Homo sapiens: one gene and its partner. The gene in region 1 interacts genetically with each later gene. Each region holds a gene or a part of one and is shown in the gene's direction. Other genes may lie near its edges.

Region 1 (3,822 bases):
GTTACATGGAAAATTTGCATGAGAGTGACCTAATGTTGGTATAAAGTAGATACCCTTAACACAGCTGGTGGAAGTCTGAGTTGTCCAGCCACTTCTAGGAATCTATGATCATAGTAGCTAAAAATGGTGTAACAACCTAAATCCAACTGTAAGAGAAATGGCTAACTACCACATGTCCTCTTGATGAAATGTTTTTTATTTTTTTATTTTTTTTGAGACGGAGTTTTGCTCGTTTCCCAGCCTGGAGTGCAATGGCGCGATCTCGGCTCACCGCAACCTCCACCTCCCAGGTTCAAGCAATTCTCCTGCCTCAGCCTCCCGAGTACCTGGGATTACAGCCATGCGTCACCATGCCTGGCTAATTTTTTTTTTTTGTATTTTTAGTAGAGATGGGGTTTCTCCATGTTGGTCAGCCTGGTCTCAAACTCCTGACCTCAGGTGATCTGCCCACCTCGGCCTCCCAAAGTGCTGGGATTACAGGTGTGAGCCACCACGCCCGGCCTCTTGATGAAATGTTGTGCCACCATTACATGTTTTTCTACAGTGAACCATGTAATGTTTAAGAAAAAAAAAATCTAGTATGTAAATTACAACCACAAGGAATGGTGGAGATAAAAAGGCCATTCAGTATTTGTTATACAGTTAACATAGATCTGGCCATGTTCAAAGCGAGGCGTGTGTCAGCCTGCTGTGGGAGATGATGAATTATTTTTCCCTTAAAACATAAAAGAAATATATTTTTACTTTTATTTTTTATTTTATTTTATTTTTTTTGAGATGGGAGTCTCACTTTGTTGCTCAGGCTGGAGTGCAGTGGCGTGATCTTGGCTCACTGCAATCTCTGCCTCCCAGGTTCAAGCAGTTCTCCTGCCTCAGCCTCCTAAATAGCTGGGACTACAGCACCTGCCACCACACCCGGCTAATTTTTTTGTACTTTTAGTAGAGACTAAAAATACACCATGGTAGCCAGGCTGGTTTTGAACTCCTAACTTCAGGTGATCCGCCTGCCTTGGCCTCCCAGAGTGTGGGATTACAGGCATGAGCCACAGCGCCTGGCCTAGAAAGATATTAAACTACAGGTTAACATGAGAAAGTTTTTAAGTGTCAATAGTTGAACTAAATTTGTTAACAATCTGTATGATTATAACCAACAAAACCAAATATATGTAGAAAACAATATTGTAGAGTTGCAAATGCCAACACTGACTGAGGAGGTGGGGGAAGTAGGGTTAGCTGTGGGGAGTGAGGGTATTTTTTTCTTTTCCTTTTACCAAATTTTCTTTACTACCACTCATTTTTCTTTATTGCTTTAAAAATTATATATTTGTGCACATACATTTGATATGTCTTTCTAGACATAGAGGATAAGGATTTACATATCCTTATCCTCACCCACAATATACACACATTCCATGTTGTTGTTAATGGAACCATATAATTTAATCTTGGGGAGAAGAGAAATGATAAAAGTACTTTTCCAAAACTGCTTGCAAGAGAACATCTCAAAGGCTCTGGTTTTGGCTTTGAATTTTCTGTTAAGGATGTTTAACATGACGATAGCAGCTCAAAGGTCTGGTATGAAGGACAGGAACAAGGTAGCTGTTGTTCTTACAGCCCTGAAACATGTATCTGATGACATGAAGACTCACAAGAACCCTGCCCTGAAGGCTCAGAGTGGTCCAGTACGCAGTGGCCCCAAACCATTCTCTGCACCTAAACCCCAAACCAGCCCATCCCCCAAACGAGCCACAAAGAAGGAGCCAGCTGTACTTGAACTGGAGGGCAAGAAGTGGAGAGTGGTGAGTTAAAAATACCTAGACAGGGGCAGGTATTTTTATTATTTTATTTTTTTGAGATGGAGTTTCACTTTGTCGCCCAGGCTGGAGTGCAGTGGCGCGATTTCGGCTTACCGCAACCTCCGCCTCCCGGGGAAAAGGAGTAGGAACAGGAGGTTAAATGGAGCTTAGCTAGATGAGGGCAGAGTTCTGGCTTCAATTGCAAGAACAAAAAGTTTGGGATAGCCTGGTTATTTTTTGTTCGGTGTGTGCTTTGTGATGAGAATCCTGGGATCTCTCTCTAACAGGAAAATCAGGAAAATGTTTCCAACCTGGTGATTGAGGACACAGAGCTGAAACAGGTGGCTTACATATACAAGTGTGTCAACACGACATTGCAAATCAAGGGCAAAATTAACTCCATTACAGTAGGTGAGTCTTTGTCGCTGTCCCACGCAAGCCCCGTCCCAGAGCCCGAGAAGGCTAATACCATTTTACCTACCCTATCCTTAAAGATTCCTAAATGTATATTACTTTCCTTTAAAGTTACACGTTGACACACTCCCTTTCTTCTCCTAGATAACTGTAAGAAACTTGGCCTGGTATTCGATGACGTGGTGGGCATTGTGGAGATAATCAACAGTAAGGATGTCAAAGTTCAGGTAACTCGATATTTTGGCTCCTTCTTTTTGTCCCTGAGGAATTAATTCAAAGAGACATGGTAGACCCACAGATGTTGCTTTGGTGGGAATCTGATTCTACAAAGTCTGTAAGCTGAGCTGCTTTGGACGTGGCAGAAGAAGGGTTGGCTCTTCAAGCAAGTTCTTTTCAGGACCCATCCCAACCCACCCGAGTATCCAGTGTCTTGCGCATCTGTGAGCTTTTCATGTAGTTGCTGAGTCACGTGAAACAGGAAACCTTTTCCTGCGACTTACTGTTGTCCTTCCCAACCACTGGGACTCAGTTCTCTTTGTTTACTCTGCAGGTAATGGGTAAAGTGCCAACCATATCCATCAACAAAACAGATGGCTGCCATGCTTACCTGAGCAAGAATTCCCTGGATTGTGAAATAGTCAGTGCCAAATCTTCCGAGATGAATGTCCTCATTCCTACAGAAGGCGGTGACTTTGTAAGTTTCTTGATCTCTTTAGTATGATGTTAAAAACAGAAGGGACTGAAGATTTCTGGCATTGAAGAAAGCTATTTTATGAACATTCTGCACTGAGCAGGTAAAAACCCAATAATGCACACCAAAAGTACACAGAAATGAGGTAGTCCCATGTAGTGGAGCCCCAAAGGTAGGTGCTTTCTGCCTAAGTGGAGCTCAAGGTAGCAAAAAATAATGGGGATGAGCCATGGCACCTTGTCAGGCTGGTGCTATAAAGCCATATGTACTGTTATTTACACCCCATAGACTTAATAGTCTGTCCAAGATCGCTGAACACTAGAACATAGCATGGCTCTGTGGGTTTGTCTCTTGCTACATTGTACCGTGCTCCTGGGGTTAAGTGGAAGCAAGCATTGGGAGAAATGTGTGAGATTTAGCCCCAGCTGTTCTTTAGCTCAGATTTAAACCTGCTGTCTCTTCTTTATTTGCAGAATGAATTCCCAGTTCCTGAGCAGTTCAAGACCCTATGGAACGGGCAGAAGTTGGTCACCACAGTGACAGAAATTGCTGGATAAGCGAAGTGCCACTGGGTTCTTTGCCCTCCCTTCACACCATGGGATAAATCTGTATCAAGACGGTTCTTTTCTAGATTTCCTCTACCTTTTTGCTCTTAAAACTGCTTCTCTGCTCTGAGAAGCACAGCTACCTGCCTTCACTGAAATATACCTCAGGCTGAAATTTGGGGTGGGATAGCAGGTCAGTTGATCTTCTGCAGGAAGGTGCAGCTTTTCCATATCAGCTCAACCACGCCGCCAGTCCATTCTTAAGGAACTGCCGACTAGGACTGATGATGCATTTTAGCTTTGAGCTTTTGGGGGTTATTCTACCAACAAACAGTCCATTGGAAAGAAAACAGTCCCTGGAATTAACAGATCAGAA
Region 2 (3,822 bases), on another chromosome or scaffold:
CCAAGGTTAATCAGTTTTGAACAGCTACTGATAGTATTGGTTTGATCTTCTACAGCAGCAAAGAACAGTCACTTGAGATCTGTGGCCTAGGTTTGACCTATTCCTCAGGGCTCCACTGACCTTGAAGGCCTTGTTTGATCAGTGCTGGCATTGACCTAGAAACTTCAGTTGTCTTCCTCCTTTATGGACTTGTCAAGCCCTTCCTGCAGTTGATCATTCTGGGCAGTTAACTTGAGTTGAAGTCGTATATAAAATGCCTTATTCTGAAGTAGAGCTTAGACCCTTAGATAACCACCCATTTTCTTTTAGATGTGTCTAGAGAAGATCTTGTTAAACTCAGCAACAAAAGCCCTATAATTATTTTGTTAGCTGGATTCCAGCAGGCATAACATAGCTTGCTGGGTGGCATAGCCCTATGACAGCTTGTACTAAAACAGACCCAAACGTGTTCTATCAGGAAATCCTTAGATCTCCATCCAAAATGCAATCGGCACTACACTAGAAAACTTGCTTGTCTCTCTTGGATTCTATAAGACCTATAGGACATTTTCTCCTTAGAAGTTTAAGATTGGAATCTACTCTGGCAATGTGGTGGCCTGGAGGCATATGTGCAAAGGGCAATTAATTATTTGTTTAAAATGAAGTGCCATGTATTTATAGGCACAAAAGAGGTTTTACATTAAAAAGTTAAGTCTCCTTTCTAACCCTTCTACTTTCCTTACTCAAACCTTTAGAGGTTGCCAGTGATACCATGGTCTTGGGTATCTTTCCGGATATATTCAGTGTACACATAGCCTGTACAGTTACATTTAAACATATGGTAGCATGCATATATTCATACTGTTCTGCGCTTTAAAAAATAACTTAATGGTCAGCCTTGGTCATTACTCAATATTTACAGAACTCATTCATTATTTTTGTGGTTACATACTATCCCATTATTTGGACATAAAATAATTTATTTAGCCAATCTTCACTGATGGAAATTTAGGTTGTTTCCAACCTTATACTATTAAAATAATATGTTAATAATCATTTGTATGAATTTTATTTACTACATATGTGACTATATCCATAAGGTAAATTATTAGAAGTAACATTTCTGGATCCAAGGTGTGTGCATTTTAAATTTTGATAGTTTTTGCCAACCTGCTCTTCAGGGATCTTATGCTAATTTTAACTCCCCTGCCCCAGCAATGTATGAGAGTGCCTGCTTGTTTTATCCATGTCTTTGTCTATACATTCCCTTTCATACTTTTTGATCTTTGCCAATCTGATAGGTAAAAAATGTTATCACAGTTTTTAATTTGCATTTTTCTTATGGCTAACATTGAACATATTTTTATCTACATGTATTTCCTCTTTAGTAAACTATCTGTGTATCCTTTGCTCATTTTCTTATTGGGCTATTGGACCCCTTCCTGTTGATTTGGTGGAACTATTTATATTTTGAGGAAATTAAAGCTATTTTATATTGAAAAAATTAGTTCTTTTCTATGATATGAGCTACAAATGCTTTTTCACATTTTGATATGTCTTTTGACTTTATGGTGTTAAGAATTCGTTGCATGCCGTAGAATTTACCAGTCTTTTATGACTTCTGGGTTTTTATCATATTAAAAAATATGTGTTCTCCTATATTTTCATCTAGCATATTTGGGGTTTTTTTCTCATTTAAATATTTCTTATTTTGGTCTTAGGTGAAGGGCATTCTATTTAGATAACTGGAAGAGTTTTGGCTGTGAGGAAGTATTCTCTTTATAATGAAAGTTGTTTGGGTTATAACAGCTGGACATTTCTTATTAATTATTCTTCTACAGTGACAGAGTGAAGCATCATGCTTTGTGGTGAATGGACAGCAAGGAGACCTAATAGCTGAAGTGTAGTTGGACTTGGAGCAATTTTAAGTTACAAGACTACTGGCAGTTTCAGAGGGCCAGGTCAAGACTGGCCAAGTTGCCAGAAATTAGTTTTTCGGGCAGTAGTAAAGACCACTTCAAAGGCAGTCTCAGCATGGTCAAAGCTCCAAGAAGAGAGCATTAACAGAGGTGATTTTAGCATTTGGAGAACTCCAGATGAGCTATGGTGTTCATGAAGATCTTGAGTTGTTTGTGGACTTCTCTCCTGAGGTAGCTGCAGATTACCTGATTGACTCTGTTCATTGAGTTCAAAAGAGGGTCTCCAAGGAATTGAGTGCAGTGGTTCTCAACTCTGGCTGCTGTGCTGGAATCTGCTAGGTAGATTCTGACTTAATTGGTCTGAGGTGAGACACCAGCAACAGTTTGAAAACTCCACAGGTGGTTCTAATGTGCAGCTTGGATTGAGAACCATTGTTAATGTAGTCAGTTTGCTGTCTCTTTGAGTCAGGGATTGCAGTACATGCCTCAGTGCTTCCAAAATGTGCATACATATCACCTGGGGATTATGTTTTAAATGCAGAATCAGGAGGTCTGGGGTGAGGCTTGAGATTCTGCCTGTCTGTCTTAATGAGCTCGCAGCTTATGCTGTGGCTGGTCCCCAGACCACACTTGAGTGGCTTGAGTTTGTTACTTGAAGTGCAAAGCACTGGCCCACACCAGTCCACGAGAGTCAATAAGCCATGGTCCTGCTCTCTTGCAGAATTTGCTTAGTGTACTACAAAGAATACTCAGGTCAAGAGATCCGCTTTCCACTTCCTGCTCTGCCTCCAACTAATTAGTGTAAGACAAGTTTCTTAGAAGTGCTTTAGTCCTTCACCCTCTTATCTCTAAAATGAGAGGCTTGAATTGGATAAACTTGAAGGTTCCCTTTGTTTTTAAATCCTCTCATGCTTGTCCAGGATGTTTTCAGACTCTTTCTGGATCAGGTTGTTATGTGGGATGGAATCTGGATCCTGTAAAGACCTTGTCATCCCTTAGAGGATGGAGGCCTAGGCCCTGAGCTTATGATCTAGTGGGAGAAATAAAACTAACAAATGTTAAAAAATTAAAGAAGAGTTAAATGTTCAAGTGTAAGCTATGATAAGTACAAAAAGAATGCAGGGAAGCTAGAGAGGAGTGTTAATTGGAATGGTCAGGAAAACTTCATTGCCAAGGGGGAATTTGAGTTGACATCGTTTTTTCCTGGGCTGGGTGGACTGCAGGGCTGACAAGAGTGGTGGTTCTCCTGCTTTTGAGTTTGCTTGTCTCTAAAAAAGCATCCTTCAACAGTGAAGCACAAAACATATTTTTCTGCCTTAAATTAAAACAAAGTAGAAGAAACATCTAGTTCTGTGGAAGTCTTTAAAGGGAAATCAAAATCCAAAAAACTCTATATTTAATTTTTCAAGGCTAATCTTGACTGAGAAGATTGATACTGAAAAAAAATCACCACTACCAAATATAGAGCAAAAAACCCAGCGTACTTCCGTATCGATAATAAAAAAATGGTATTAGAAATTACCTAAAATGTAAGTAAATTCCTCAAATTATAAGTATTATTGAAAGTGACATATCTCTTTATCTTAACTAATTGGGAAAGAGACCAGATAATTTATTTAGATTTTATAACATAGGTGCACACGAATTTTTGACTCACCTCTTTTAATGTCAAAGGAGATGTATTTTGCATTGTTATTAGAATTTTACTAAATTTTATGTTCCCTTAAGAGGAGGTTATGTGACCAGGGCTCAGGTATTGAAAAATACAAAATAGAGCAGTTACCCTCATTTAATGAGCTATATTTAGTACACACAGTGCAGCTCCGTGTTCTCTGAATATCCTGAGAGTTTTGGTTTTTATCTCTATGGCTAGATCATTTTGAAATTGCAGACTTTGGGTAATTTTTCTCTCAAACACATGCTA

The links.
Region 2: of CAP1 (region 1) and ATG10, changing one enhances a phenotype caused by changing the other (phenotypic enhancement), as found in Homo sapiens cells (one large-scale study listed by BioGRID).

Annotation. Positions count from the first base shown.
Region 1 is NC_000001.11:40,068,076-40,071,897, forward strand, and holds part of CAP1 (adenylyl cyclase-associated protein 1), read left to right. Parts: intron 1-1,614; coding exon 1,615-1,799; intron 1,800-2,083; coding exon 2,084-2,207; intron 2,208-2,354; coding exon 2,355-2,437; intron 2,438-2,760; coding exon 2,761-2,904; intron 2,905-3,374; coding exon 3,375-3,458; 3' UTR 3,459-3,822. UniProt on the Homo sapiens protein: Directly regulates filament dynamics and has been implicated in a number of complex developmental and morphological processes, including mRNA localization and the establishment of cell polarity.
Region 2 is NC_000005.10:82,051,908-82,055,729, forward strand, and holds part of ATG10 (ubiquitin-like-conjugating enzyme ATG10), read left to right. Parts: intron 1-3,324; exon of another isoform or gene 3,325-3,427; intron 3,428-3,822. UniProt on the Homo sapiens protein: E2-like enzyme involved in autophagy. Acts as an E2-like enzyme that catalyzes the conjugation of ATG12 to ATG5. ATG12 conjugation to ATG5 is required for autophagy. Likely serves as an ATG5-recognition molecule. Not involved in ATG12 conjugation to ATG3.